Regions from separate parts of the Homo sapiens genome. Here all the other regions are linked to region 1. Evidence: fine-mapped expression QTL. A gene starts in region 1. Each other region holds a variant in brackets. All regions are shown on one strand. Distances are between the middles of the regions.

Region 1 (10,826 bases):
AGGCAGCCAGGCAGGGACTCTGGCAGGAGCAGGCAGGGTCATGGGGAGGGAGACAGATCCTGGCTGCCCCAATAGACAGTGAGGGTGTGAATGGGATCCCAGCATTCCTTTCACCATTCCTTGCTTCCAGGTGACCCTGCTGGACTTTGGTGCAAGCCGGGAGTTTGGGACAGAGTTCACAGACCATTACATCGAGGTGAGTCTCCCCCAGACCCCAGGGCCTCTGAAAGGCTGAGGCTCAAGCCATATACTGAGGCAGAGGAGTAAGAAGGCGAAATGCAGTTTCTGGAATTAAGAAATAATAAATAATAGTAATACTCGTAGCAACTAGCACACACCAAGCACTTAATATGTCAGGCTCCATCTTTAGTGCTTACGTATAGGAACCGATATAAACCACACAGCAACACAATGCGAAAAGGACCGTTTTTAGGCCCGTTTTAGGCCAGATGAAGTAACTGGGTCCTGGAGGGGTTAAGTCACGTGCCCAAGATCACAGCAGACTTGGGATTCAAATTCAGGTGGTCCAGGTCCAGAGCCCAAGCTTCCAACCACTGCCCAGCTCCCTCCTAAGAGAAAGGCCCACAGTGACCATCTTGTCACCTCTCCAGACCCCATGCTGTCCAGGGCCCTGGTGTCCAGCCCAGGTGTGTGTCCCTGGGGGCAACTCTGTCTACAGGAGGTGTTTCCTCACGTACTTGGCTCGTCTCTCCCACCCACTGGGGTCAGTTTGTCTTAGAGGCTGCAGAGAATACCATTTCATTCGTTGTTGAGATTGGACATTTGCCCTGGGTCCTCTAATCATGTAGCCATCAATCTAAACGTTTTCTTTTCCTTTTTTTTCTTTTCTTTTTTTTTTTTTTAATTGAGACAGAGTCTTGCTCTGTCGCCCAGGCTGGAGTGCAGTGGCTCGATCTTGGCTCACCACAACCTCCACCTCCTGGGTTCAAGCGATTCTCCTGCCTCAGCTTCTCGAGTAGCTGGGATTACAGGCATGTGCCACCACGCCCGGCTAATTTTTGTATTTTTAGTAGAGATGGGGTTTCACCATGTTGCCCAGGCTGGTCTCGAACTGCTGACCTCAGGTGATCCTCCTGCCTTGGCCTCCCAAAGTGCTGGGATTACAGGCATGAGCCCTCCTGCCCAGCCAATCTAAATGTTTTCTGACCCCTCCTCTGTGCCCAGCTCTATTCTAGGCAAAGCTGGAGACACAGCAGTGACCTGGGCCCAGCCTAGGCCCCTCCTCACAGAACTCATAGTCAGTGAGGCGACAGTGAGGACCTAGCATGGACAGGGCTGGGATGGGGGAAGCGCAGGGCACTGTGAGCCCAGAGGAGGAGCCTGAGCCAGCCTGGGGAGCCAAGGAGGGCTTCCCGGAGGAGGGAGTGTCAGCATTGAGACCTGAGGGATGAGGGGGGCCAACTGGGAAAAGGCTCGGAGGGTATTTCAGATAGACAACATGTGCCAAGACGAGGCAGTGATAAGGGACAGTCCCATTAGAGCAGCATTTCTCAGACTTGGATGTGCATGTGAAGCCTGGTGATCCTGTGCAAGTGCAGATTCTGGTCTGGAGGTGGGTGTAAGATGCTATGTTCTGACACGCACCCATGTGAGGCCAGGGCTACCCGTATGGGGACCACACTGGTAGTAGTAAGGCCCTAGAGCACCCAAAGGAAGCTCCCATTCTGAGTGGGAGGGCAGGTCGGGGGGCAGCACAGTGACGAGGCTGCAGCAAATCACTGCGGATTTTAGAGGCTGCGCTCTACAGCTCGTACTGTATCCAGGTGCCCTGCGGAGCCGTGGAAAAGATTTGAGCAGGGAAGGGATGCAGTCAGAATTTGAAAACTCCCTCTGAATAAGAAGTGGTCTCTAAGCCTGGGGGTGGGAGCTCAGGGCAGCTGTGGAGAGGGGCAGAGGGGTGGCTGGGAGATGCCCAGCTGGCAGTCCATGGGAGCAGACGGGCTAGAAGTTGGGGACAGAGGTGTCTAGGGGTCTGGTCTGGGGACTGGTGGGGCCACCTCTGAGACAGGAACAGGAAGAGGAGGTGATAACCCCTTACACACAGGCCCCTTGGGGCCCTCTCTGCCGGCCACTGAGGCACAAAGCTGAGACCCTTCTTCTCCCCACTGACACCCTCCCCTCCCACCCAGGCCTGCAGCCTTTGCCACTTTATAAAAGCCCTGGCTTCTGAGGACCACAGGCCTGACAGATGGCCAGACATGCTCGGGCAGGGGGAGCAGAGAGGGAATGGAATTAATCCCGAATCCCCCTCCTCACAAAAAAGGGCAACCCAGTAGTGAGTGGTGTGACCCGGTTCCACTCCCTACTCCGGGTCTGCTTCCCCTTCTGTGAAATAGGGACCCCCGTGCCCACCTCTTAATAATGGTAGATTATAGTATTTACGGTGCTTCCTGCATGAGACACAGCGCCAGGCAGGCCACAGGCATCACCTTCTTTATCCTCCCAACAGCCCCATGAGGAAGGCACTTTTGGCATCCCCACTTCACAGATGAGAAAGTGGAGGCCCAACAGGCCGGCAGGTGGCAGAGCTGGGACGGAACCCTAGCCAGCTGGCCCCAGCTGGGCATCTCTCCATGCCCACAACTCCTGCCCTGTGTGTGTGAGCTCATGGCTGGAGAGCTGCTCTGCTCCACACGCTCATTTGCTAAAGCAAGGTTCACCCAGGGCCTCCTCAGCACCAGACCCTGTGCCCCGTGCGACTAAACCCAACTGGGATCCTTGCTCTCACGGGGCTCAAAGTCCAGTGTGGGAGACAGAGAGATGGCCCCTGGCAACTTTGGATGCAGTTCTGGGTCACGCTCATACCCGTCCAGTTGAGTGTTTGGACTCACCAGCAGCCCTGACACTTGTTTCTTGCACTGTTTCACTGTGGCAGTTCCCGGGCAGGCCCCACATTGCCCTCTAGGTGGGCAGGATCCCTAACCACCTCCACTCCCAGGCTCTGGAAGAGTCTTTAAGGGAGTCACAGACAGGCAAAGTTGGGAGCAGGAAGCTTCCAGGTGAGGGAGGGCCCAGGCAGATGAGAATGGAGGTGGGTACATGGGAGGCCCAGGCTTCCAGCTCCTCTTCTCCAGAGCCCCCTTGAGCCCCGGCCTTTGTCCCTCTAACTCCCACCCGTCTCCCCAGGTGGTGAAGGCTGCAGCTGATGGAGACAGAGACTGTGTCCTGCAGAAGTCCAGGGACCTCAAATTCCTCACAGGCTTTGAAACCAAGGTGGGGAGACACTGGGGGAGAAAGGGGCTGGTGTCTGTTGGTGGGGTGCAGTGGGGGGCTGCTTATCTCCACTGAGGAACTCGAGTAGGTGATGGGGCATGTCGATACCCGGGGACTGGGGGACTCTAGGAGGGGCTTGTCTCCACTAGGGAGAATGGAGGCTGTGTGTCTATACCTGGGGAGTGGGTGACTCTAGGAGGGATGCTTATCCATGCTGGGGGCTTTGGGGAGGAGTGGGGGGAGGTGGCTGCCTGACTTCTCAGGAACCCTGGGAACATGGGCACCGTGGATCTGTTCAGGAGGGGCGAAGGCCGCTTCTCTGTTGTAGAGAGAGTAGAGGGCTACTTGTCTGTTGGAGGCTCTGCAGGGAAGTAAGGGGTGCTTACTCGGGGAATAGGCAGCTGCTTGTCTAGTCCAGGCTCTGGAAGGAGTGGAAGCTGCTCACTCTTGGGGGAGTCGGGGCTTGTGTTGATGGTGGAGACTGGAGGGAGTGGAGGCTACACGTTGTTTCTGGGTTATGCAGAGGGCTCTATGTCCACACTGGCTGCCTTTGCTCTCCCCCCACCCCCACTCCCAGGCATTCTCCGACGCCCACGTGGAGGCAGTGATGATCCTGGGGGAGCCTTTCGCCACCCAGGGCCCTTATGACTTTGGGTCGGGGGAAACGGCCCGCCGCATACAGGACCTCATCCCGGTGCTGCTGCGGCACCGGCTGTGTCCCCCACCCGAGGAGACCTATGCCCTGCACCGCAAGCTGGCAGGGGCTTTCCTGGCCTGTGCCCACCTCCGAGCCCACATCGCCTGCAGGGACCTCTTCCAGGACACCTACCACCGCTACTGGGCCAGTCGCCAGCCAGACGCAGCCACTGCCGGCAGCCTCCCCACCAAAGGGGACTCCTGGGTGGATCCCTCATGACAGCCTCCATGGGGGATTCAGTCCCCAGAGCAGGCCGTACCCTGCTGTAGTGCCTCTTATCCCTTCCCCGTCTGCCCTGGGTCAGAGGAGCCCCCTTGGGCTTCCCAGTCTTGCCTGGCTCTCCTCCTTGGCCCAGGAGCTCAGGATCCCTGGGGCTGGGGAACTCCCAACTTCGTGCCCTAGATCCTGCACCTCCCCACTCGAAAGTGGGTATCCGAAAACTAAGCCAGGGAAGCGGTTAACTTATCTTTGCCAACATTTGAGGGAGCCTTGGGCCGCTGCATGTCGTTATGCAGATCAGACTCATCAGGGGGAGCCCTCACCTCTGCCTCAAGCCTCCCGTGGAAGGCGAGATGGTCCTGGAGGCAGTCCTCACCTCTGCCTCCCTCGCTCCTCCAACAGCTGCCTTCTCCCGGGTTCCAGCCTCTCAGTGTGTTGGAGAGGTAGGGGTGCGGGGTGGGGGGGAGCTGAATCTTCAATCGGAATAAAAGCAGCCCTCCCCTTCCCCCAGCTCTTTTCTCTGCGCTAGGGTTGGGGGGAGAGGGGGAGGAGCTCGCCAGCGGCCTCCAGGTGCAGATGGCCAGCCCCCCTGCACCCCCTTGTCTGAAAGCCTCAGCCCTGCCTGTGCCATCTGTTGCCGGGAACCTCCTTCTCGCCTTCCCCACCCCCCCCCACGTGCTGACCACCTGCTCTAAGGGCTGTGGCAGCTGAGGCCTCCCACACACACAGTGCCTCTTGGCTGCGGGCTCCCTCCCCTCACTCCTGGCAACCTCGCCTTTACTAATGGGCTCTAATGTCCCTGCCAGCTGCTTTGCCAAACCCACAGGATTGGCGTAGGGGGCGGCGGGGGCGCCGTAGCGGCCAGAACCGCGCCCTGGTCCCACCCCGGCGCCCCCGTTCCCAAAGCCGAACCGATCGCGCATCAGGACGCCTTGGTCTGTTCACACCCCCTCCCCTTCCTTGCAAAAAGTGCCTCGTCACCGCTCCTGCCCGCCCCCGCCGGGCTGGGGAACCATGGGGTTAGCGGGAAGATTTGGGGGTGTGGGGCGGCAAGGCGCCTCTAGAAGCAACTCTTTCGGACGCGGAGCTGGAGGGGATCTGAGGTCAGGTGTCACGGAGGGAAAGGGAGCCCAGGCCAGGACGGACCGGGGGAAAGGACTCGGCGATGTTCATAGGCATGCTCAGCTCGGGACTGGCCAATGGGCGTGGCGGGGCGGTGGCCGCGCCGGGGAAGGCGGGATGGTGTCTGCGTGTGGGCGGGGTCTTCAGGCCAAGGGGCGGGGCGGGGCGGGACCTTTCTGCATATACGGCAGGCGGCGGGCCAATGGGCGGGGTCGGGGCGGGGAGCCGAGGCCGAGGGACGCTCCCCCGCCCCCGGAACGGAATCCTCCCGGGAGCCGAGGAGGCTCGCGCGCGTGCATCCCGCACCATCCCCCGGCCCCGGGCCCTGGCCGGCGTCAGACCGAGCTGCCGCCGCCACCACCGCAGCAGCAGCAGTCGGGGAGCCAGGCCCAGCCAGGGCCGCGGGAGGCGGGGGCGCCCGGGCCCTGGATGTCCCGCAGCGCGGCGGCCAGCGTGAGAAGGGCGGGAGAGGGGGGCTCGGGTCGGGGGCGGCGCCGCTGCTGATGTGGCGGAGGGTGGGAGGCGGCCGCGGCGCCCGGATGGAGAGAGGGTGCCAAGGCTGGAGAGGGTGGTCCCGGGTGGGGGTCCAGGAACAGGCCCAACAAGCCAAAGCCCAGGAGACCGGGGTCTTGGGCACAGACCCCTGGGCCATCTCTTGCCAAGGCCCTGGAAATAGGGATCCTGGACACAGACCCCCCACAAAACCAAGGACAGGGGTACAGAGATTCTAGGTACAACTCCTAGAACTAGATGGGGATGGAGATGGGGTCGGGGACACAGCCCCCGTATCAAACCAAGGCCTCCAGGACGCGATTCCAGACACAATCCCTACCTCTCCCTGCCTAAGGGGGTCTCAGCACAACAACTGCCTAGGTACGGTCTCGAGGATGGGGTCACTGGGTACAGCGTTCCCACCACGCCAAGGCCTAGGGGGACTCCAAGCACAGCCTGCCCCCAGGTCTCAGAGGCACCCTGGGCACAGCATCCCCCCAATCCTTGGGCGGAGTCCCAGGCACAGCCACTTCTCAAAACAAGGTCCCTGTGCCTGGGACTCCACCCCACCCCAGCCTGAATAAAATAAGGACAATTTCAGGCAACCCCCAATCCCTCCACCCCCTGGCTTGGTCATGGGTCCCAGGGCACAGGATCCCTAGGCCACCCCCTTTGTCCCCAGGGCTGCCCAGCTGTCCAAGAGTGGCCCCACCCGCAGACAATGCACCGCTTCCCCCTCCTGGACCTGGCCCTCAGGCTCCAGGATACAGGCTGGGCTGGGGGCGGCTCCCCAGGGACCGGGTGCAGCCCTGTCTGTCTGCAGTGTCTGCGGTGACGGTGACGGCGGCTTTGTGTGTGGTACCTGGGGGGAAGGGGGGAAGCAAGCGATGGGGAGGTGGCTAGGAGTGTGCCCTGTGTTTGTGTGACTGTGGCTGTGTATGTGTGTGTGTGTGTGCACGCGTACGCTGCAGCTGGTGACTGAGGAATCCTGTGTCGTGTGTGTGTGCTTGTGGTGGTGTCTATGATTGTGTCTGTGACCCTAGTATCTGTGTGACTGTGTATGTGTGTGTGACAGCTGCTCACTGTGCAGAATCCTGTACTTTTTAGTCTGTCTGTGTTTGGAGGTGTGCATGGTTGTGACTGTGGTTGTCTGTGATTGTGTCTTTTGTGACCCTGTGTTTGTATGCCTCGGTAACTATAACTGGGTATGTGACAGTATGTGTTGAGTCTGGGGGTGGGCATGCGTGTGACTGACAGGACGTGGGTGGAGTTGTGACTGTGTGTGAGTGGAGTTGTCTATGGCTCCATGTGCATGTGTGACCCTCCCAGTGACTGACAATGTTTATAGTTGTGTCTCTACCTGATTTTATATACGTGAGTGACACACACCTGTCTGTGCAACTCTGCCTGTGTGACTGCCATTGTGTCTGAAGTCACATTGTATCTGTGTGACTGGGGTTGTGTGACAGTATTGTGTATGACAGTGGTTGCGTATGCAGAACCATGTCTGAGTGTGTGACTGAGGTTGTATTAATATAAATGACTGTATCTAGCAGTGTGTGTGATAACGAGTGATTGTGTGTATTTCTAGCCTTGCATGTGTGATTTGGGTTATGTATTTGACTTGGTGTCTGAAACCCTGGCTATTTAGAGGGATTATTTGTGTGTGACTAAAGCTGTGGATGTGTCTCCGTGCTGGTGCCAGGAAATTATGTTTGTAGGGGTGTGTATATGATTATGGCTTCCATATTATTGTGTTTGACCTGCATGTCTGACCCTGGGTGACTATAGATGTCTGTGTCTATGTCATCATCTGTGAGAGTGTGGGGTCTGTAGCTGTGTGCCTGTTTTTGTCTCTGTGTGTATGTGCTGGACTACCTGTGTTAGAATGTGTGATTTGGTGATGAGATTGGCCCCTGACTGTGCACATGGCTCCGTCAGGACCTGTGTCTTCTGTGTAAACCCAGCTATAAATGCCACATCCTGGTCACTGCATTTATGTGCATACACTGGACTGTGTACTTGTGACATGGGAAACTAAAACTGTGTGCTTATGTCTCTATGTGTGAGATATGTGTGTAGGTGGGGCTTGTGACTTTGTGCACCTGTCCACACGGGGCTGTGATTCTATATGGCCACATACTTGTCTGTGTGACTTGTGTGCCTGCATGAAGAAAGGCTATATGTTTCGCTGCATTGGAGTGACATGGTACAGCTGTGTATGGACACTGGGTGACGGGATTATGACCATGATAGGTGGCTGGGTCACATGGACATTGATGCTGTGGCCATGCCTATAGGACCACCATGGCTGTGTCTTGAGGGAGGCCATCCTTGGGGACAGTTGTTTGTGGGTGGTTGCATGCTGTGGCCATCAGTACCTCTGTATGTGGTTGTGTATAGAGGACTGTCCCTATGAGTGTGGCTGTCACAATAGACTGTGTGACTGATGCTGTGACCAGATTTGAGCACCTATGACTGAGTATGTGTGACCACGTGACAGTGTGTGGCCAAAAACAGTGTGTTGGTGTGACTGGTCTGGTTGAGGCTGCATGTGGTCTCCGTGGGACCAAATGTGTGTCTGTCCGTGTGCATCTGTGACCAGATGTCAGTGTGCAGCAGTGGAGATACGTGTAACAAGTGTATATAGCTGCGATTGTGTCGTGTGGGACTGGGTCAGCAAATGGGTGAACTCTGGGTGTGATTCTATCTGGGTGGGCCTGTGACGTCAGTATCTTGGGCGGGTGCCTGAGGAAACATAGCTGTCACTGGGTGTGGCCACGCATGTGCGGCTCTAGTGGGTTGTCTGGGCCCCGTTCTTTGTATGTGGCTGAGAATGTGGAAGTGACCAAATTTCAGTGGGTGGTGTGACCAGGTGTCTGCGGTGGGAACTGAGTGGGCCAGGACATGCTGCATGTATGTGGACAAATGTCTGTAGTAGAGACTGTGTGTGTCCGAACATGAATATGCGGCCAGATGTTTACAGTGGCAGCTTTCTGGGTTTGGGACTGTTTCTGTGTATCTGCGATCTGAGGTGTGTAGCTGTGATTGCGTCTATGTGTAACCAAGTGTGTAAAGCTGTGGCCAGATGCTAGGGACACCTGTAGATATGAGTTGGCTGCGTATGTGTGTAGCCCTGCACATGCATCTGGAGGGCAAGGCCACTCTCACAGCATCCCCTTGGGCAGTGAGGCTCTCCTGAGGCCAGCACATCCCCAACATATGCCCCCCAAACATACCTACTCCTTCCTGGGCCCTTGGAACCAGGTGGCTGATCTCCCTGGTAACAGTTGCTAGGACAACTAGGACTCTCATCAGGGAGCCCAAGATGGAGGGGGCTGGCCGAAGTCCAAAGTCGGGGTGAAGTATCAGACTGAGCCCCAACCCAGACAAACTTCTCACCTTCTCCTCCCCTACTCGGGCAGGGCGGACCCCGGAGGCCTGAGCGGCACCTGCCCCCAGCCCCCTGTGGGGCCCCGGGGCCCCCAGAAACCTGCAGGACGGAGCCAGGTGAGCGACCAGCCTGGGACAGGGCAGGGCTGAATGGGTATGTGGTCTTGCCTAACACGACCAGAGGAGCTGTCCCTGCGGTCACACAGGCTTAATCACACTCATGAGTGGACACCCTCAGGCATCTTCCTCAGCGACTGTCAGAGCCCCACTCATGCACAGACCCACACCCTGACACCCTTACAGCCTCAAGTGCAGAGTCACAAACACTCACATCTGTAGATATACGGTTAGAGACACACACACACACACAGATCTCTTTCAGATCACACACACTTGCTAATGCAGTGACACACTTGAACACATGCTGAAGTAGATGTTCATCACACTAATGTACACACATATATACACACACACACATTCCTAGACAACACCCAGATTCACAGGTGACCACAGACGCTCGCTGGATACAGACTCTGAGATACACACTCTCAAGAGACACACTCTTGGCCGGGCGTGGTGGCTCAATGCCTATAATCCCAGCACTTTGGGAGGCTGAGGCGGGAGGATCACCTGAGGTCAGGAGGTCAGGAGTTCGAGACCAGCCTGACCAACATGGAGAAACTCTGTCTGTACTAAAAATACAAAATTAGCCAGGGGTGGTGGCACATGCCTGTAATCCCAGCTACTTGGGAGGCTGAGGCAGGAGAATCGCTTGAACCTGGGAGGCAGAGGTTGCTGTGAGCTGAGATCATGCCATTGCACTCCAGCCTTCATTCGCAACAAGAGCAAAATTTCGTCTCAAAAAAAAAAAAAAGAGACACACTCTTGCACAGTCTGACAACACACACAGACCCACATTTCTACAGACGACAGCCACACTTTCACAGACAGCACCCGCGGGCCCAGGCTCTCACAGGGAGCTACGGTTGTGTACAAACATGCACACAGTCTCACAAAGAACACCCAGCACTCTCTCAGGCAACAGTCACACCCTTACAAATAACCCTCATGAAAACACTCTCAAAGACAACCTCATGTTCCCACACACCCTAACGGATGCACCACTGCACACAGATACACCCTCTGTGCAATACCCACACACCCACACTCTAAGGCAACAGCCACAGTCACACAGGCTCACCGCCAACAGCTGCACTCTTGGACACAGACAGTCTTGTAGATCCCTCAGATGCACTCTCCGAGGCAATGTCATCACAGACAATAGCCACACCTTCACACAGAGACATAGCTACATGGATAACAGCCATGGACACACCCTTTGAAAGACGACAGCCTCATCTCAAACACAGACACACCCTCACAGGCAACAGGCACTGAGCCACAAGTTCTCATAGACAACAACGGCACTCTCGGATATAGACAGCAGACACACACTCACAACCACTCTCAGACATCGATGCCCTTCAGCAACAACCTTCAGGGCCTCAGACTCACAGACAACAACCACACTTTTGGATGCATCCCTCACGGACAGCATTCACAGATGCACACTATCCTACACCATTCTCAGACATGCGTTCTTCCAGACAGCCTTCAGAAACACACTCACAGACATTACTTGCCTGCTCAGATATAGAGCCCCTCATAG
Region 2 (10,826 bases), 18 kb after region 1:
AGTTGCCCCATCATAGCTGCTTGCAGCCTTGACCTCCTGGGCTCAAGGGAACCTCCCGCCTCAGCCTCCCAAAGTGCTAGGATTACAGGCGAGAGCCACCACTCCTGGCCTGTTCTGACTTTTTTTCACCATAGAACCATAGATTAGTTTTGCCTCTTCTGGAATTTCCAGTAAGTGGAGCCACACAACAGGCTCATTGGTTTCTGGCTTCTCTCACTTGGAGCTGTCATTTCCAGCCCTTCCTTGTGGTGCAGATGAGCACTGAGGCCCAGAGAAGTGCAGAGACTCATCCGGGGCAACCCAGTACCTAGCGGCTATAACCCAGTGCCCCTGGCCCCTGTCCGCACTGCCCAGCGCCTCTAACCCCCCCGCCCATCCTCTCCCCATAGGGCGAGAGGCTGAGCCACGCTGTGGGCTGTGCTTTTGCCGCCTGCCTGGAGCGAAAACAGCGACGGGAGAAGGAATGTGGGGTCACGGCCGCCTTCGATGCCAGCCGCACCAGCTTCGCCCGCGAGGGCTCCTTCCGCCTGTCTGGGGGTGGGCGGCCTGCTGAGCGAGAGGCCCCGGACAAGAAGAAAGGTGGGTGTTGCCCCAAGCGCCAGCAGAGCACAGAGTGGGCACAGGGTACCCAGTATCAGGGGGCAGGGAGCTGCAGAGGTGCAGAGACTCAACAGTTTACAAAGTAGGGGATGCTTCAGGCCAAGCGCCATGGTTCACACCTGTAATCCCAGCACTTTGAGAGGCCGAGATGGGCGGATCGCTTGAGGTCAGAAGTTTGAGACCAGCCTGCGCGACATGGTAAAACCTCGTCTCTACTAAAATACAAAAATTAACTGGGCATGGTGGCCTACGCCTGTAATCCCAACTACTTGGGAGGCTGAGGCAGGAGGATCGCTGGAACCCTGGAGGCAGAGGTTGCAGTGAGCCGAGATCACGCCACTGCACTCCAGCCTGGGCAATAGAGTGAGACTCTGTCTCAAAAAATAAATAAATAAATAAAGCAACTTCCATGGAAAGAGTTCTCTGGGCAATATTCTAAGGGCGCACCAAGTGGTTTACTATCCACCAATTCGGGGCTTTTCGAGGCTTTTCTTTTTTTGTTTGTTTTTTTTTTTTTTTGAGACGGAGTCTCGCTCTGTCAACCAGGCTGGAGTGCAATGGTGTGATCTAGGCTCACTGCAACCTCCACCTCCCGGGTTCAAGCAATTCTGCCTCAGCCTCCCGAGTAGTTAGGATTACAGGCATGGCTAATTTTTGTATTTTTAGTAGAGATGGGGTTTCACCATGTTGGCCTCAACTCCTGACCTCAGGTGAGCCACCGCGCCTGGCCTTCTCAGGGCTTTTCAACCTGTGTATTAAGACCTGGGAAGCCAATTTGCTGTACTGTGGCTGGCATTTTTTGTTTTGTTTTGTTGTCTGAGTTGAGGTCTAATTCTGTTGCCCAGGCTGGAGTGCAGTGGTGCGATCACAGCTCCCTGCAGCCTCAAACTGCTGGGCTCAAGTAATCCTCCTGCCTCAGCCTCCATGTAGCTGGGAATATAGGCACAAGCCACAGCATCTGGCTAATTTTATTTTTATATTTTGTAGAACTGGGATCTTGCTGTGTTTCCCAGGCTGGTCTCAAACTCCTGGCCTCAAACGATCCTCCCACCTCAGCCTCCCAAAGCACTGGTATTATAGGTGTGGACAACTGGGCCCAGCCCATGTGGCTGACATTTAAAAAAATGAAATCAACCTGGGCAACATAGGGAAACCCTGTCTCTACAAATCATTAAAAAATTAGCCAGGCGTGGTGGTGCAACCTGTGGTCCCAGCTCCTCAGGAGGCTGAGGCAGGAGGATCACCTGGGCCCAGGAGGTAGAGGCTGCAGAGAGCTGCGATTGCACCACCACACTCCAACCTGGGTGACAGACAGAGTGAGACCCTGTCTCAAAAAAAAAAAAATTAATTTAAAAACAATGAAATAGAGAATCATAGAAAATATCAGAGTATATTGAATGGCATAAGGGTTAAATATAATTTAATGATACTTTTATTTGAGAGAGAGAGTGTGTGTGTGTGTGCACGCGTGTGTAAGAGGCTACCATATAAAAGATATCTCTTAACTCTGGATTGCCATCAAGAAAGTTTGAAACATACTTGGTAAAACTAACTTTCTAGGTAAATGGTTAAATACTTTGTAAGTTCTAAAACTCTGTGTGTGTGTGTGTGTGTGTGTGTGTGTGTGTGTGTGTTTAAAATATAATTGTATGTATGTCCTGAGTCACCATATAATTAATTTATTTATTAATTAATTAATTTATTTATTTATTTTACTGTGAATTTAAGTTCTTTGGGAAAACACTACTTAGAATTTACAAAGAATTTACCATTGGGAACTGATCCTGATTAAGGGAGACTAATGAGGTTTAACAGGTATTAATAGATGCGAGATGTGATCCTGAATTAGATCCTGGATTGTAAGGGGAAAAAAAAGAACATCTTTTTTTTGAGACAGAGTCTCTCTCCGTCACCCAGGCTGGAATGCAGTAGTGCCATCTCAGCTCACTGCAACCTCTGCCTCCTGGTTTCAAGACATTTATGTGCCTCAGCCTCCTGAGTAGCTGGGATTACAGGTGCCCGCCACCACGTCCAGCTAAGTTTTTTTTTTTTTTTTTTTTTTTTTTTTGAGACAGAGTCTTGCTCTGTTGCCCAGGCTGGAGTGCAATGGTGCGATCTCGGCTCACTGCAACCTCTGCCTCCCGGGTTCAAGCGATTCTCCTGCCTCAGCCTCCAGAGTAGCTGGAATCCCAGGCGTGTGCCACCACACCCAGCTAATCTTTTTTTGTATTTTTAGTAGAGATGGTGTTTCACCATGTTGGCAAGGCTGGTCTTGAACTCCTGGCTTCAACTGATCCCCCCACCTTGGCCTCTCAAAGTGCTGGGATTACAGGCGTGAACCACTGTGTCCAGGCATGCTTTTGTTGGATTCCAAAACATTTAACATTCACTACCTAAACTGACCCTCTCAGAGGCTTGGGAGGTAGCACTGAGATGTTTATCCCAGGTTTCTAGTTGGCAAACTGGAGCCCAGAGAGGGGAGGGGACTTCCTGAGGTCACACAGTGAGTGGAGGCAGAGGAGGTTTCCTGGTTCCAACCTGTCCTGGGCTGTTTCCACTGCCTTGGGCCAGGCCTGCATGGGTGCCCCATTGTGTCACGATGGGAGAAGCAGCACTGGGCGACATCCTTATGGGAGGGTCTCTCTGGGCCTGAGTTTAATCTCCATGGCATTCAGGCTGCAGCTCGGGGAGGCCCTGGTAGGAGGGTAGATGTGTGTTTGTGGTTTGGCAGGGGTGAGGGCAGCCCTGCCCTTGAAGAGCCTGCCTCTCCTGCTGAGTGGGGAGGTCAGGTTTCCTCCCAGAGTACAGAGAACAGTCTCAGAGTGGAGGGAGCCAGGCTGAGAGCCTGGAACAATCTGGAAAGCTTCTCAGAGGATGAAGCATCCAAGCCATGTCTAGAATGACTGGAGGAAGGGAGGAGCTACTTGAGGTGGGAAGAAGGCTGGGAGGTGGGAGACAGAGGGGAACAGACAGTGACAGAGAAAGACAACATGATATGGAGAGACAGGTCAGAGGGAGACAGGGCGGGCAGTCATTTGGAGCATGGGGTCCAGAGTCAGCCTGCCCCTTCCTAGCAGTAGGACTTGGGCACATCACACTGGGCCTTTGCTGGGTCTCAGTTTCCACATCTGTAAAATGAGAATCATATCAACCCCATGGGTAGTCGTGTGGATTGAATGAGTGAATACTTGAAAAGCATCTGGAACAATGCCTGATACGTTGTTCCAGCACCAAATCAGTGTTTGTTAAGTGATCAAAAAGGGAGATAGAGGGTCTTAGAGGGAAGAATGGTGAGAGCAGCAGGGCAAGACAGAAAGGGGCAGGAAGCTGGAGAGACACAGAGGGTGAGCCTGGGGGACGGTTTTCCAAGAGCCTCCTGGGGAAGGGGATCATGACTTGGGTGGGGGTGAGGGATATCTCAGGGCTTTGACTAGCTTGTCTTAAGGGCAGGACTCACTGGGCAAGGAAGGCAGCCTTGGAGAATGATCAAGAGAACCAGGTGGGAGAGGCCTTGCATGCCATGGTGAGATATCTAACCATCCATCTCCCCCATGTCTCCAGCAGAGGCAGCAGCTGCCCCCACTGTGGCTCCTGGCCCTGCCCAGCCTGGGCACGTGTCCCCGACACCAGCCACCACATCCCCTGGTGAGAAGGGTGAGGCAGGCACCCCTGTGGCTGCAGGCACCACTGCGGCCGCCATCCCCCGGCGCCATGCACCCCTGGAGCAGCTGGTTCGCCAGGGCTCCTTCCGTGGGTTCCCAGCACTCAGCCAGAAGAACTCGCCTTTCAAACGGCAGCTGAGCCTACGGCTGAATGAGCTGCCATCCACGCTGCAGCGCCGCACTGACTTCCAGGTGAAGGGCACAGGTGAGCCCTGGGCCCAGTGGGAAACGGCGTTGGAATCAATTGGCACTATCTGATGTGGGCAAGGGATGGAGGCGAGATGGTTCACACTGTGATTGATTTGCACTGTCTGCCATGGGCAAAGGAGAGAGAGTGGGAACATGTCATGATCGATTAGCAGTGGGCAAGGGAGAGGAAAGAGATAGCACAAATCAGGATTGATAAGCCGTGTCTGCTCTGAGTAAGGGATAGTAGAAAGGCATCACAAGTTATGATCAGTTAGCAATGTCTGGTGTGGTTAAGGAAAAGGAGAAAGATGACACACATCATGATTAGTTAGCAAAGTCGGCTATGGACAAAGAAGTCGGGCATGGATAAGGAAGTTTGCCATGGGCCAGGGAAAGAAGAGAAGCAACACCATTGGCCTGTTTTTGCTCAGGAGTAGACTGAAGCACTACAGGTTAATGCTCCCTCCCTCCAAGCATTCACCTATGAGATCTGGCTAGGTGAAGGATACAGGTATTCCTCAGGCTCTGAGGAAAGGAGGATTGTGATGGATTAGAAATGTCTGCCTAGGGCAGGGAGCATCAAGGGATGGCAAAAAAGGCATCACAAGTCATGATCAATTAGCAATGTCTGCTGTGGTTAAGGGAAACGAGAAAGATGGCACACATCATGATCGGTTAGCAGTCATGATCTCCATGCAGTGTGTGTCATGGGCAAGGGAGAAGAAAGAGTAGCAAGAGTGTTATGTTTTTACCCAAAGGGGAGACTCCCAGAATTTGGTCAGTAGAAACATGACATGCAGGGCACCAGTGAGCTCAGAGATCCCAGGGGTCAGGGGCATAGTGATGGATCAGGAACATTTGTTGTAGGCACAGAGTTGAGCAGAGGCAGTACCCATCACGAAAAGGAGCAGCACATCATAATTGATTGGCATTGTCTGCCATGGCTGGTGGTAAGAGAGAGGAGATATAAAGGTCCTGTTTTACTTGGAGGGAAGATGGAGTTACAAGGATCTGTTTCTTCTAGCACTTGGCCAGGGGAGCCATGAGGTCTGGACAGGTGACGGGTAAGGTGAGCAAAGAGCTCCGTGGGGGAAAAAAGCATTGTGTTTGATTACTAATGTCTGCCATGGGCCAGGGAAAGGAGACAGGTGGTGTACATCATGATCTAAAAGTGATGTCTAGCCAAGTGCAGTGGCTCATGCCTGTGGTCTCAGCACTTTGGGAGGCCAAGGCAGGCAGATCACTTGAGCCCAAGAGGGGCTCAAGGATCCCTTGAGGCAGATCACTTGGCTAAACCCTGTCTCTACAAAAAAATACAAAAACTAGCCTGGTGTGGTGGCGCATGCCTGTAGTCTCAGCTACTCAGGAGGCTGAGGAAGGAGAATTGCTTCAGCCCAGCTGCAGTGAGCTAAGATTGCGCCACTTCACTCCAGCCTGGGCAACAGAGTGAGAACCTGTCTCAAAAAAAAAAAAATTAAGAGCAATCTCTGCCATAGGGAAGGAAGATAGAGGTGGCACGCTACTGAGTTTTTGCCTGAGGGAGGCAGGCAGAAGGGCTGTCTTCCCCACCAGCAGCCAGTGAACCCATGTGGTCTGGCCCACTCTCTTGCTCCTGGATGCCAAATCTGCATCGCCTACCCGTTATGTCCTCGGGGATTGATGTGGGAGGGTGTTGAGCTGTATCCAGGAGGCTGGGCTGCTCCAAAAGGTAACCGGTGAGCAGATGCCAACCCTTGTTGAGAGTGACGCACGCTCCCTCCATGCCTGCAGCATTCCTGGGCCATCACACACCCTCACATTTGCTGTCCTTAACGCAGCCTGACATCAGGCACACTCCCCAGGCTGTCACACGTGCTCCTGAGAGGTGGCAGGAGCTCCAGGCTTTATTTGGAAGCCTCACACTCCTGTGGCCAGCTGCACGCTTATTTGGATGTGACTTGCCACACAGAAATTTCACATACTCACATAGACATTGCACCCCCCCACACACATGTCACACATGCTCAGAAGTCACAAACTCACAGTCAGGTATACTCTCAAGTCACACACACTCCAAAATCACAGAGTCAGAAGTCACACATGGCCAGACGTGGTGGCTCACACCTGTAATCCCAGCACTTTGGGAGGCTGAGGCAGGAGGATCACTTGAGCTCAGGAGTTTGAGACCAGCCTGGGCACCACAGCAAGATCTCATCTCCACAAAAAAATTTTAAAAATTAACCTTTATTGTTAACCAGGTGCAGTGGCATGCACCTGTAGTCCCAGCTACTCAGGAAGATTGCTTGAGCCTGGGAGGCGGAGGTTGCAGTGAACTAAGATTGTGCCACTACACTCCAGCCTGGGCAACAGAGCGAGACCCTGTGTCAAAAATAAATAAATAAATATTTTTAAAAAAGAAACACACTCAGATTTACACACCTTCACAGACCACACACCCAGATTTATGCAAACTCCAAAGCCACATGTGCAGATCCATGCACACCTGCAAACACACTCATACATCACACGGCAGATGCACTCACACCTGGGAGTCACGCATCAGGACGCCACACACCCGGACCCCAGTCACACTCTCAGAAGCTGCATTCCTGTTTGGACGAACATGCACAATCATTGTCGACATTGGCTGTCCCACCCGGGCGCCCCCGCAGCACACCTGCAGACTCCTACGGCCAGTTCTGATGTTCACTGGAGCATCTACATGGTCCCTTGGAGACAGCCATTGGCTAAAACATCACAGACATGTGTCACACACCACACATGGGAGTCCTTAATTGTTTATTTGGATGGTACCTTTGCTCATCACAAGCCCTCACGGGGCCGCCATGCCTGCTCAGTGTCTCCTGCCTTGCTGGCACAGGTGTATCTCTGCTCTCATGATGTTTGCCATAGATCAGCCTGGGTGGGGTGGACAGGACCCCACTTCTCTGCCCAAAGCTGGACAAATGATCCCCAGCCAGTGAGCGGCCATGCCACAGCCCATTCAGACTGGGCCCATGTCCTTGCCATGCACGTGGTTGGGCATATTTTTAAACTAATATATGTTGCTAAGTGTTTTAGACAACTCTTCTGGTTTGTGGCCACACACAAATCTTGAGGTCCTTGGTTTGGGGTCCCTGTTACTGTCAGCCGTCAAATGTCACACACTAACTCAGTCGTTCTGCCGCTCAGATGTGACACACACATATGCACAGTTATTTGGCGGTCATGGCCACTTAGTTACTACAGTGGGAAAGGATCCAGGTCAGAAGAGAGGGCCACCGAGGGCGGGGGGTAGAGGGCGGGGCTGCGGCAGGGTCTGGGCCTGTTTGCTGACCTCTGTCCTGCCCTGCTTCCCAGTGCCTGAGATGGAGCCTCCTGGTGCCGGCGACAGTGACAGCATCAACGCTCTGTGCACACAGATCAGTTCATCTTTTGCCAGTGCTGGAGCGCCAGCACCAGGGCCACCACCTGCCACAACAGGTAAAGCCAGGCTTTCTGCTGGGCAGACACCCTGCATGTCCCTCCTGTATCCCCTCCTCTATCCAGGGCTACCCAGACACTCCAGGGGTCTTGGGATCCTACAGGCTTAGAACCATGGATCACCTCAGAGCCAGGGGATCATCCTACAACCATGGATCATCTTAGAGCCATGGGATTACCTGAGAATCATGCGATTACTTTAGAACCATGGATCATCTTAGAGCCAGGGGATCATCCTAGATCCATGGATCATCTTAGAGCCACGGGATTACCTGAGAATCATGCAATCACCTTAAAAGCAGGGATCATCTTAGAGCCAGGGGATCAGCCTAGAACCATGGGATTATCTGAGAATCGTGTGATCATCTTAGAGCCATGGATCATCTTAGAGCCAGGGGATCATCCTAGATCC[G/A]TGGTTCATCTTAGAGCCATGGGATTACCTAAGAATCATGTGATCACCTTAGACCCAGGGATCATCTTAGAGCCAGGGGATTATCCTAGAACCATGGATCATCTTAGAGCCATGGAATTATCTGAGAATCATGTGATCACCTTAGAGCCATGGATCATCTCAGAGCCCTTGATCATTTTAGAGCCACGGGATCCCCTTAGAACCATGGGATCATCCTAGAACTATGGATCATCTTAGAGCCATAGGATCACCTTAGAAACACAGATCATCTTAGAACCAGAGGATCATCCTAGAACCAAGGATCATCTTAGAGCCGTGGGATTACCTGAGAATCAAGTGATCACTTTAGAACCATGAATTATCTTAGAGATACGGGATCATTGTAGAGCCACGGGGTCACCTCAGAGGCATGTGCTCATGCTAGAATCTTGGGATCACCTTAGAGCCCAGAGATCGTTTCAGAACCATGGAATCCTTGAGAACCATGTATCATCTTAGAGCCATGGGCTTATCCTAGAACCACAGGTGCACCTTAGAATCTCAAACACTGTAAATGTAGAACTCGAGAATCTTAGAAAGCCCAACCCTAAACTGTCAAACCTTACTATGTTAGGATACTATTATACATGTGGAGAAAGATCCATGCAATCTTAGAATCTTAACTCCTAAAACAATACATTCTGAAGGTATTAGAAAATCAAGGGTGATATTCAAAATAGTGAATACCAGCTGGGTGTGGTGGCTCATGCCTGTAATCCTAGTACTTTGGGAAGCCGAGGCAGGGGGATTACTTGAGGTAGGAGTTCGAGTCCAGCCTGGGCAACATGTTGAAACCTCGCCTCTACTAAAAATACAAAAAATCAGCCGGGCGTAATGGTGCGCGCCTGTAATCCCAGCTACTCAGGAGACTGAGGCACGAGAATTGCTTGAACCTGGGAGGCAGAGGTTGCAGTGAGCCCAGATAGGGCATCCCTGGGCAACAGAGTGAGACTCTCAAAACGAACAGACAACAAACAAAACAAAATAGTGAATCCTAGGCTTGGCACTGACCAGTCAGAAGGGTAGTGGGGCTAGGAGGATGTCAGTCCTACTTAGACTTTCTCATCATAGGGCCTTAGAAGCTCAGAATTGTATGTTCTTAGCACTCCAGAACCATTACGTGGTCCAGAATGGTGAAGTCACTCGCCTGAAGTCAGCAAGCTCGGGAGGTGCAGAGCTGGGATTCAGAGGCAGGCGGTCTGGCTCCAGAGTCCGTGCTCTGATCCCCACACCATGCCAGTTCCCAGCCTGGGGTTCTTCTGCTGAAGCCGTTGCCCCCTCCCTCACCTGTCCCTCTCCTCTCTCCAGGGACTTCTGCCTGGGGTGAGCCCTCCGTGCCCCCTGCAGCTGCCTTCCAGCCTGGGCACAAGCGGACACCTTCAGAGGCTGAGCGATGGCTGGAGGAGGTGTCACAGGTGGCCAAGGCCCAGCAGCAGCAGCAGCAGCAACAGCAACAGCAGCAGCAGCAGCAGCAGCAACAGCAGCAAGCAGCCTCAGTGGCCCCAGTGCCCACCATGCCTCCTGCCCTGCAGCCTTTCCCCGCCCCCGTGGGGCCCTTTGACGCTGCACCTGCCCAAGTGGCCGTGTTCCTGCCACCCCCACACATGCAGCCCCCTTTTGTGCCCGCCTACCCGGGCTTGGGCTACCCACCGATGCCCCGGGTGCCCGTGGTGGGCATCACACCCTCACAGATGGTGGCAAACGCCTTCTGCTCAGCCGCCCAGCTCCAGCCTCAGCCTGCCACTCTGCTTGGGAAAGCTGGGGCCTTCCCGCCCCCTGCCATACCCAGTGCCCCTGGGAGCCAGGCCCGCCCTCGCCCCAATGGGGCCCCCTGGCCCCCTGAGCCAGCGCCTGCCCCAGCTCCAGAGTTGGACCCCTTTGAGGCCCAGTGGGCGGCATTAGAAGGCAAAGCCACTGTAGAGAAACCCTCCAACCCCTTTTCTGGCGACCTGCAAAAGACATTCGAGATTGAACTGTAGCCCGAGCCGCCCCACCCACTCCATCATCTCCAGGTGCCCCACGCCTGGGGGTGGAGGCACAACCTCTCCCCTAACCCTGCTCCCTGGGGCTGCGCCCCTCAACACCCTCTCAACACCCCCCTCCCTCAACCACCCCGACAACCACTACAGAACCAACATTGTGACGCCCAGGTTGCAACAGGATGGAATTCAGGGACGGACCCAGCCTGGCTAAGGGAACCATTTCACTGCCGGACTTAGGCTGGCAATGCCCCCTTCCCCAACCCCAGACACAGGGGTTGGCCACAATCCCACTGAATGCCCTTGGTTCACACTCCATTTCCCAGTTTCTGTTGACCCCCACCTTCCAGTGTTGGACAGGATGGAGGGGGGACACTTGCTTAGGGGCTCTCCTGGGCCCCACACCAGTGCCCACCCCAAATCTGGTCGTCTCCTCCCCCCATGCACAGCACAAGCTAAGGGCTGCCCTCTGCCCACACGCTG
Region 3 (10,826 bases), 35 kb after region 1:
CTAAAATAAAACATCAGATTGAAAAGAGCCCCTATCAGAGCAACACGAATTCTAAAATTGAAGCAAGAACAAGCATCAAATTGATGGTGAAGCTTGGGTGGAAGAATGATGAAATCATTGATGTTTTCCAAAAACTTGACAGTGCCCCAGAGAAATCAGCCATTTACAAATGGATAACTCGTTTTAAGAAGGGACAAGTTCGGGCGTGGTGGTTCACGCCTGTAATCCCAATACTTTGGGAGGCTGAGGCCAGCGGATCATTGGAGCTCAGGAATTCGAGACCAGCCTGGGTAACATGGTGAAACCCCATCCGTACAAAAAATACATAAATTAGCTGGGTGTGGTGGTGCACACTTGTAGTTCCAGCTACTCAGGAGGCTGAGGTGGGAGGATCACTTGAGTCTGGGAGGTAGAGGTTGCAGTGAGCCGTGATTGCGCCACTGCACTCCAGCCTGGGTCATGCTGAAGATGAAGCCCACCGTGGCATACCATCCACATCAATTTTTGCAGAAAAAAATTAAATTTGTTTATGCCTTAATTAAAGAGGACTTACAGTTAACAGCAGAAACAATAGCCAACACCATAGACATCTCAATTGGTACAGCTTACACAATTCTTTTTTCTTTTTTTTTTTTTTTTTTTTTGAGACAGGGTTCTCATACTGTCGCCCAGGCTGAGTACAGTGGTGAGATTGTGGCTCACTGCAGCCTCAACCTCCTGGGCTCAAGCGATCCTTCCACCTCAGCCTCCGAAGTAGTTGGAACTACAGGTGCGTGCCAGCACGTTCAGCTAAGTGTCACACGCGTCCCTGTGAAGAGACCACCAAACAGGCTTTGTGTGAGCAACAAGGCTGTTTATTTCACCTGGGTGCAGGCAGGCTGAGTCCAAAAAGAGAGTCAGCAAAGGGTGGTGGGATTATGATTAATTCTTATAGGTTTTGGGATAGGCGGTGGAGTTTGGAGCAATGTTTTGCGGGCAGGGGGCGGATCTCACAAAGTTCATTCTCAAGGATGGGAAGAATTACAAAGAAACTTCTTAAGGGTGGGGGAGATTACAAAGTACATTGATCATTAGGGTGGGGCAGAAACAAATCACAATGGTGGAATGTCATCAGTTAAGGCTATTTTCACTTCTTTTGTGGCTCTTCAGTTGCTTCAGGCCACCTGGATGTATACGTGCAGGTCACAGGCGATATGATGGCTTAGCTTGGGCTCAGAGGCCTGACACTAAATTTTCGTATTTTTTGTAGAGATGGGGGTCTCATTAGGTTTCCCAGGCTGGTCTTGAACTCCTGGACACAAGTGATCCTCCTGCCTCATTCTCCCGAACTGCTGGGATTACAGGCTTGAGCCACCTCACCCGGCCTCAGCTTACACAATTCTGACTGAAATTAAAGCTAAACAAACTTTCCACTCGATGGGTGCCAGAACGGTCGCACCCAGATCAGCTGCAGAGAAGAGCAGAGCTTTCCATGGACATGCTAAACAAGTGAGATCGAGATCCTAATGCATTTCCTTGAAGGATTGTAACGGGAAATGATACATGGTTTCACGGGTGCAATCCTAAAGACAAATCGTAATCAGAGAATGATTGCCAAGAGCGGGGAAGTGATCCAGTCAAGGCAGAAGCACACTGGTCAAGAGCAAAGGTCATAGCAACAGTTTTTGGGGATGCTCAAGGCATTTTGCTGGTTGACTTTCTGTAGGGTCAAAGAATAATAAGATCTGCTTATTATGAGAGTGTTTTGAGAAAGTTAGCCGAAGCTTTAGTAGAAATAAGCCTGGGAAGCTTCACCAGAGAGTTCTTCTCCAGCATGTCTACGCTTCTGCTCATTCTCCTCATCAAACGAGCAATTTTACAAGTTTTGATGGGAAATTATTAGGCATCCACTTGGCAGTCCCAATTTGGCTCCTTCTGACTTTTTGTTTCCTAATCTTAAAATCTTTGAAGGGCACCCATTTTTCTTCAGTTAAGAATGTAAAAAGACTGGGCTGGGCGGAGTGGCTCACGCCTGTAATCTTAGCATTTTGGGAGGCCAAGGAGGGTGGATCACCTGAGGTTGGGAGTTCAAGACCAGCCTGACCAACATGGCAAAACCCTGTCTCTACTAAAAAAAAAAATACAAAAATTAGCCAGGTGTGGTGGCTCATGACTGTAATCCCAGCTAGTCGGGAGGCTGAGGCAGGAGAATCACTTGAACCCAGGAGGTGGAGGTTGCAGTGAGCCGAGATCATGCCACTGCACTCCAGCCTGGGCAACAAGAACAAAAAAAAAAGGCCTGGCACAGTGGCTCACAACTGTAATGCTAGCACTTTGGGAGGCCGAGGCGGGCAGATCACCTGAAGTTAGGAGTTTGAGACCAGCCCGGCCAACTTGGCAAAACCTCGTCTCTACTAAAAAAAAAAAAATTAGCCAGATGTGGTGGTACATGCCTGTAGTCCCAGCTACTCAGGAGGCTGAGGCAGGAGAATGGCTTGAACCCGGGAGGCAGAGGTTGCAGTGAGCCGAGATCATACCACTGCACTCCAGCCTGAGCAACAGAGTGAGATTCCATCAAAAAAAAAAAGAAAGAGAAAATGTAAAAAGGCTGCACTGACATGATTAAATTCCTGGGACCCTCAGTTATTTAGGGATAGACTAAATGGCTGGTATAATGGTTTACAAAAGTGTCTTGACTTTGACCTTGATGGAGTTTATGGTGAGAAATAAAGATTTTTTTAAAATTTTTATCTCTTAATTCCATTCTCCATCAACTTTTTGAATTCCCCTCATAACACAATAGCAATTTGTAGCTCATACCTATAAGCTTAGATAGCATACAGTAGCTCATACCTATAAGCTTAAGTAGACATTTACATAACTTTTAGATATCTATAGTACGTAGATAGCTACAGATCAATGTAGATGTCGAAAGAGAAAGAGCGAGACCAGGCCAGGTGGTTCACGCCTGTAACCCCACTGCTTTGGAAGACTGAAGCAAGGGGATCGCCTGAGGCTGGAGGTTCCAGACCAGCCTAGACAACATAGCAAGAACTCATGTCTACAAAAAAATTCTTTTCATTAGCTAGGTATAGTGGCACACACCTGTAGTCTGGGCTACTCGGGAGGCTGATGCAGGAGGGTCTCCCGTGCCTAGGAGTTTGAGGCTGCAGTGAGCTATGATCGAATCATCGTACTCCACCTGGGCAACAGAGAAAGACCCTGCCTCTTAAAACACAAAGAAATAGGCCCAGCACAGTGGCTCACGTTTGTAATCCAAGCACTTTGGGAGGCCAAGGTGGGGGGAATCACTTGAGCCCAGGAGTTTGAGAACAGCCTGGGCAACATGGTGAAAACCCGTCTCTACAAAAAATACAAAAATTAGCTGGGTGTGGTGGTGGGCACCTGCAGTCTCAGCTACTCAAGAGGCTTAGAAGGGAGGATCGCTTGAGCCTAGCAGGTTGAGGCTGTAGTGAGCTGTGATCACACCACTGCACTCCAGCCTGGGCAACAGAGTGAAACCCCATCTCAAAAACAAACAAACAAACACACACACACAAACCAAAACAAAAACAAAAACACAAAAGGCCAGGTGTGACGGTTCACGCCTGTAATCCAGCACTTTGGGAGGCCAAGGCAGGCGGATCACCTGAGGTCAGGAGGTCAAGACCAGCTGGCCAACGTAACAAAACCCTATCTCCACTGAAAAATACAAAAATTAGCTGGGCATGGTGGTGGGTGCCTGTAATCCCAGCTACTTGGAAGGTTGAAGCAGGGAGAATTGCTTGAACCTGGGAGGCAGAGCTTGCACTGAGATCGCACCATTGCACTCCAGCCTGGGTGACAGAGCAAGACTCCGTCTCAAAACAAAAACAAACAAAAAACTGCAAAAACCTAGTGAATCCATATCCACAGTATATTATTATATCTTCTACTTTTCTTGCAATTCTTTTGCATGTTTAGAAATTTTCTAAATAGAAGGGTGGGGGTAGGGGTGTGGTAAGCATCTGCCTTAGAGGAAAGCAGGAATTGTCCATGAGTGGCATATGTGGAATGAGGAGAGGAAGTGCCTCCATATTGCCTGGGTTTCTGGCTTGAGGTCCCAGGTAGAGACATTTTTGAGACTGGGAAGATTGTGATCGTGGAGGGGAATAGGTGTGAAGGGGAAAAATCAACGGTTTAAGAATGACCACCAAGTGTTGGTCAGAGGCTTGTCAAGAAAAAAGAAACCACATGAAGTATTTCAACAAGAAAATTGAATGTAAGGATCTACCTTTCAAAGCAGGTGAGTCTCGAAGGCACTGGAATGTGTGGCTGGAGCTCTGAGGAGGGGGTGGGCTGGGGCCAGGCACAGAAGATACCAGGGATGTATTCATTGCAACACAGGGAGGGTGGATGGACAGCTGAGTAAAGACAAGACCCCTCTCTGGGTACAGCTGTGTAACTGAAGGCAGAGGCATGTGGAGAATGGGTTGTCTTAAGAGTGGGTCAGCCTGGGGCACACATTTCCTTTTCTGAGCAGTGGCCCAGCAGGCTCTAGAATGGGGTTGAGGCATAGTTTCCAGAGGTTTTTTCTTTTTAGAAGTCACCTGCTTATTATTTTTTGCTTTATGCACTCATAGGAGAGTGAAGATGAAAAAGATTATGAAAGAGAGAAATTGATTCACTTTTGAGGATCCCCAGGGTTTTGGAACAATCTTTGAAAACCCCTTCAGTCACAATATTTTGTGGCTCTCTCTTAACTTGTGCAGTTAATCCATAATGGTTGGGGTTTCAGCAGGTTTGCCATTATGACAAGTGCTGTGGTGGACATCCTTGTTGCTAAATTCTTCTGTACACATGAAATCATTTTTTTTAATTTTAAAATTTCTTTTTTTCCTTTATTTTTTATTTTCTTTCCTTAAATACTCTCCTATTCCAGAATAAAACCATCTTTTTTTTTTTTTTTCTCGAGATGGAGTCTTGCTCTGTCACCCAGGCTGGAGTGCAATGGCACGATCTTGGCTCACTGCAATCTCTGCCTTCTGGGTTCAAGAGATTCTCTTGCCTCAGCCTCCCGAGTAGCTGGGATTACAGGCCTGTGCCACTAGGCATGGCTAATTTTTTGTATTTTTAGTAGAGGCGGGGTTTCACCACGTTGGCCAGGCTGGTCTCGAACTTCCTGACCTCGTGATCCACCCACCTCAGCCTCCCAAAGTGCTGGCATTACAGACGTAAGCCACCAC[G/A]CCAGGCCGAATAAAACCATTTTTAATTGACTTATTTATCCTCCCCACCCCTTTTCAATGACTTGGAAATCAGGATGTGTCTTATAAATGATTATGTGTCATAGTTTAACTGGCAGCTGTTTTTTCTCCCCTGGGGATTTGAAGTGACAATGCATCTTGGCTGGGTGTGGTGGCTCACCCTTGTAATCCCAGCATTTTGGGAGGCTGAGGCGGGTGAATCACTTGAGGTCAGGAGTTTGAGACCAGCCTGGCCAACATGGTGAAACCCCATCTCTACTAAAAATACAAAACTTAGGCGTGGTAGGGCACACCTGTAATCCCAGCTACTCAGGAGGCTGAAGCAGGAGAATTGTTTGAACCTGGGAGGTGGAGGTCGTAGTGAGCTGAGATCGCACCACTGCACTCCCACCTGGGCAACAGAGCAGGACTCTGTCTCAAAATAAAAATAAAAAATAAAATAAAATAAAATAAAAAACAATGCATCTTACCTTTGATGGCTTCTTGGATTTGAATGATTACTGTAATAACAGTAATACTCAGCGTAAACACCCACATAACACTGTGTGCCAAGGTAACTCTTATAACAACGCTGAGAGGCAGATACTATTATTGTCTCCATTTTCCAGAAGAGAAACTGAGCCACAGAGTGGTTAAGGAACTTGGCCCAAAGTCACACAGCTAGAAAGCAATGAAGGGGAGCAGAACCCAGAAAGTGGCTCCAGGGTCTCTGTATTTTTAGGGTTTCCAGTAGATAGTACAAGATGAGCATTATGGTTAAGATTCCTCCCTCCTGGGCCAGGCGCAGTGGCTCACGCCTGTAAATCCCTGCGCTTTGGGAGGCCAAGGAGGGTGGATCACCTGAGGTCAGGGTTGACCAGCCTGGCCAACATGGCAAAACCCCGTCTCTACTAAAAATACAAAACGTAGCCAAGTGTGGTGGCAGGTGCCTGTAATCCCAGCTACTAGGGAGGCTAAGGCAGGAGAATTGCTTGAACCTGGGAGGCAGAGGTTGCGGTGAGCCAAGATCACACCCCTGCACACCAGCCTGGGGGACGAGAGCAAGACTCTGTCTCAAAAAAAAAAAAAAATTCTTCCCTCCTACTCCCCAGCTTTGTTTGTACACAAGGGACCCCTTCCAGGCCACAGATAACTGAACCAAAGTGATATTAACCCATCCAAAGGGGCCCTTTTGACATGCACTATCTCCTACATGGCTGCACGTTGAACATACCTAACCATCCCAGGCTTACAAATGCTTTTAGAGCAAGTTTCAAAGTTTGGTCCAGGGTTTCCTGGAGGTCCCTGAGACTTTGTCCACAAAGTTAAAATTACTTTCTTTTTTTTTTTTTTTTTTGAGATGGAGTCTTGCTCTGTCGCCCAAGCTGGAGTGCAATGGCGCAATCTCGGCTCACTGCAAGCTCCGCGATTCTCCTGCCTCAGCCTCCGGAGTAGCTGGGACTACAGGCGCCCGCCACCACCCCCGGCTAATTTTTTTTTGTAATTTTAGTAGAGACGGGGTTTCACCATGTTAGCCAGGATGGTCTTGATCTCCTGACCTCGTGATCCGCCCGCCTCGGCCTCCCAAAGTGCTGGGATTACAGGCGTGAGCCACCGCGCTCGGCCAAAATTACTTTCATAATAATTCCAGGACTTTTTTTGCGTATTTCAATCTCATTCACTTATGAGCATACAATGGCTCCATGACATGTGATGACATAATTGCTCTGCCAGTGTGTGCTTGTGGATGGCTGGATTTTAATATTGTCAGTTTTAGCCTAGGCAACACAGCAAGACTGTGTATACAAAAAAATCAATAAATTAGTTGGGTGTGGTGGTGCACACCTGTAGTCCCAACCACTCAGAAAGCTGAAGCGAGAGGATCACTTGAGGCCAGGAGTTCGAGGCTGCAGTGAGCTGTGATCATGCCACTGCACTCCACTCTGGGCAACAGGGTGAGACCCTGTCTCAAAAATCAATCAATAATAAAAAATTTGTTTAAATGGCCAGTTTTAAGTTCTAATATGGTAAATATCAATAGCTATAACCCACACAGGCCGGGCGCAGTGGCTCATGCCTGTAATCCCAGCACTTTGAAAGGCCGAGGCGGATGGATGACCTGAAGTCAGGAGTTGGAGACCAGCCTGGCCGACACGGTGAAACCCTGTCTCTAATAAAAATACAAAAAAATTAGCCAGGCGTGATGGCGCACACCTGTAGTCTCAGCTACTCGGGAGGCTGAGGTGGGAGGATTGCTTGAACCTGTGGGGCAGAGGTTGCAGTGAGCCAAGATCACACTATTGCACTCCAGCCTGGGCGACTAGAATGAAACTCCATCTCAAAAAAAAAAAAAAGTTATAACCCACACAAATAAAAGCTGTTTGGGGTCCTTGATACTATTAAGAATGTAAAAGAGTCCTAAGACCAAAAAGTTCCAGAACAGTTGCCTATAGCAACATTTCCCGAGTCACTGTGACAGTCCCTAAAGGATCCCACAGATCCCCAAACATTTCCCCAGGCCCAGGCCCTGGATGACAGTCACAGCCATGAGCTGCCGAGAGCTCTTTGGGATCAAGACCTTTCCTTCAGGTTCGTACTATGATGTCAAATTGGATTTTTCCCAGAACTTCCAGAATTGCTACTACTGCCCAAAACTGAGGACAAAAGTGGCCAACTACCCCAGAGCCTAAGTTCGAGGTCACTGCCATTATAACCAGCCACTTACCCAAATAAGTTACTGAGAGGACCCAAGGCTGTCCAGAAAAGGATAGAGAAGAGAAAGGAAGCATCATCCTGTTTGGGGGGAAAATGAGAGAGGAAAGTTCTCAAGAGAGGCTACACCTTTCCCTCCCCATGAACTTTGTGGGTTTTTTTGTGTATTTGTTTGTTTGAGACCGAGTCTCACTCTGTCGCTCAGGCTGGAGTGCAGTGGTGCGATCTCAGCTCACTGCAACCTCCACCTCCTGGGTTCAGGTGATTCTCCTGCCTCAGCCTCCTGAGTAGCTGGGACTACAGGCACATGCCACTATGCCCGGCTAATTTTTAAATTTTTGTATTTTTAGTAGAGACGGGGTTTCACCATGTTGGCCAGGCTGGTCTTGAACTCCTGACCTCAAGTGATCCACCTGCCTCGGCCTCCCAAAGTGCTGGGATTATAGGTGTGAGCCACCGTGCCTGGCCTGAAGGCTATGTTTTTAAATGAATGAAAATGAGAGAAATATTAAAGACTCTAGCAAAATTGTCATTAAGTTTCCCTGTAGCCTTTATCCAACAGGAAAAAGGAAATTAACAATACATTTATTTTTAAAAATAAAAATAATAGACAGGCCGGGCGTGGTGGCTCACTTCTGTGAGCCACCTTTGGGAGGCCGAGGTGGGTGGATCACTTGAGGTCAGGAGTTCAAGACCAGCCTGGCCAATATGGGGAAACCCCGTCCCTACTGAAAATACGAAAATTAGCCGGGTGTAGTGGTGCGTGCCTGTAATCCCAGCTACTCCGGAGGCTGAGGCACGAGAATGGCTTGAACTGGCAAGGTGAAGGTTTCAGTGAGCTGAGATCGCACCACTGCACTCCAGCCTAGGAGACAGAGCTAGACTCTGTCTCGAAATAATAATAATAATAAAGACACAGTCTTGGGGCCAGCTGTGGTGGCTCATGCCTGTAATCCCAGCACTTTGTGAGGCCAAGGTGGGTGGATCATTTGAGGTCAGGAGTTCAAGACCAGCCTGGCCAACATGGTGAAACCCTGTCTCTACTGAAAATTCAAAAATTAGCCAGGCAGTAGTGGTGTGCACCTGTAATCCCAGCTACGCAGGAGGCTGAGGCAGGAGAATCTCTTGAGCCTGGGAGGCAGAGGTTGCGGTGAGTGGAGATTGCGCCACTGCACTACAGTCTGGGCGACAGAGTGAGACCCTGTCTCGAAAACAATAAATAAATAAAAAAGACACAGTCTTGGATGCTGTGATTTTGGATCATAGTCTTGGAAAACAATAGATAGCAGGTAGAGAGCAGTCACTGCAGAACAAATGGAAACTGTCATGTTTTTGATCCCAAGGGATTGAGATTTCTCAATAAACTATTTCTGTTTAGAACAGGGAGTTGGAGCTGTGCCCAGGTGGATGTTATTGGGCACAGGCTGTATAGAGGTGGGTCTTAAATCAGTACCAGTAAAAGCCAGATGTAACTTCCAAAGATGGTGGCAACAATGTTTCCCAGCCCATATATTCCTCTAGAACTTTGATACCCCTTCCATTGGGAAGTGGAATTTGTGTAAGCTCCCCTTACATCTAGGCAGTTTGTGACTTGCTTGTAACCAAGACTATGTGGCAGAAGTAATGCTGCATGATTCCAAGGCTAGATCAGAAGAGATAAGGCCCCTTCCTTTCCTTCTTTCCTTCCTTCCTTCCTTCCTTCCCTCCTTCCCTCCCTCCTTCCCTCCTTTCTTTCTTTCTCTCTCTTTCTTTCTTTCCTTCCTTCTTTCTTTCTCTCTTTCTCTCTTTCTCTTTCTTTCTTTCATTTCGATGGAGTCTCACTCTGTCGCCCAGGCTGGAGTGCAGTGGCGTGATCTCGGCTCACTGCAACCTCCGCCTCCCAGGTTCAAGCGATTCTCCTGCCTCAGCCTCCTGAGTAGCTGGGACCGCAGGCCCGTGCTACCATGCCCAGCTAATTTTTGTATTTTTAGTAGAGACGGGATTTCACCATGTTTTCCAGGCTGGTCTTGGACTCCCGACCTCAGGTGATCCACCTGCCTCAAGCTCCCAAAGTGTTGGGATTACAGGCGTGAGCAACCGCACCCAGTCGCGGCTGCTACTTTCATAAAACACTTGTACTGGATGCCGAAGCTGCCATGTAAGTCCAACTGCCCAGAGGCTGTCATGATGTGAGGGAGCCCAAACCAGTTCGCGTGGAGAGACCACATTGAGAAGCCCTGAGACAACATGGAGTGGGGAGAGAGTAAGAGAAAGAGAGAGAGAGAGAGATCCATCCACCCCCAGCTGCTTCCCTGTTCCAGTTTCAGCTGCCAAGTGACTGCAACCATATGAAATTCCAAGTCAGAACTGCCCAGTTGGGTCCTTCCCAAAACTCTGACCACAGACACAGTGAAAAATAATAGGATGACTGTTGTTGTTTTGGGCCACCATATTTTGGAGTGATTTGTTACCAAGCAATAGTAACTAGAAAGAGGGAAATGTGTGGAGCATAAGGAGCTTGCAAAGAAAAGCAGCCTTAAGAGGTGAGAATGGCCATGTAATGACGATAACAGAAGCTAACATTTGAACGCTTTCTGTATATGGGCACCATTCTCAGTGCTTTGCATTAACTAACTCATTTAATCCTCACGGGAACTCTACCATATGAGTGCCTTCATTATCTCTATGTTACTGACGGGAAACAGGGCAGAGAAGACAGAAATTTGTTTGGAATGGAAATTGAACCCAGGTGTGGCTCCTGCAGCCCTAGTGTGAGCCACTCACCTTACTATTTGAGGAACATGTGACTTGGCTCAGCCAATCTGGCCATTATGGTTTTTCCTTCTGTCCCTCCGATCACAGTGATTGGCTCTTGCATGAACACGTGCCCTCTGTTGGCCCAATCAGAGTTAGCCTCATTACTTTGGCAGGAAA

What was found. PIP is the estimated chance that this variant, and not a neighbour inherited with it, causes the effect. A credible set is the group of variants that fine-mapping cannot tell apart.
Region 2: its variant is the best candidate, but not a certain one, in a credible set for the expression of NUMBL in blood mononuclear cells (TOPMed, PIP 0.79).
Region 3: its variant is the best candidate, but not a certain one, in a credible set for the expression of NUMBL in whole blood (TOPMed, PIP 0.50).

The regions. Positions count from the first base shown.
Region 1 is chr19:40,685,359-40,696,184 of GRCh38, reverse strand. NUMBL (NUMB like endocytic adaptor protein) reads left to right here and starts at 5,534. Exons shown (of 10, transcript NM_004756.5): 1 at 5,534-5,725; 2 at 9,190-9,274. The coding sequence starts at 5,702. COQ8B (coenzyme Q8B) reads left to right here. Exons shown (of 15, transcript NM_024876.4): 13 at 131-196; 14 at 3,148-3,234; 15 at 3,812-4,655. The coding sequence ends at 4,150. RefSeq lists silencers at 4,842-5,081, 5,402-5,741 and enhancers at 4,428-5,365, 6,581-6,630, 6,304-7,243, 8,367-8,661.
Region 2 is chr19:40,666,985-40,677,810 of GRCh38, reverse strand. NUMBL (NUMB like endocytic adaptor protein) reads left to right here. Exons shown (of 10, transcript NM_004756.5): 7 at 390-579; 8 at 4,162-4,467; 9 at 7,791-7,913; 10 at 9,673-10,826. The coding sequence ends at 10,343. Among named protein-coding and RNA genes, the nearest start is that of NUMBL, 18 kb to the left of the region's middle. The variant G/A (reference allele first, on the strand shown) is at 8,326.
Region 3 is chr19:40,650,373-40,661,198 of GRCh38, reverse strand. No RefSeq gene overlaps it. Among named protein-coding and RNA genes, the nearest start is that of NUMBL, 35 kb to the left of the region's middle. RefSeq lists an enhancer at 8,912-8,961. The variant G/A (reference allele first, on the strand shown) is at 5,205.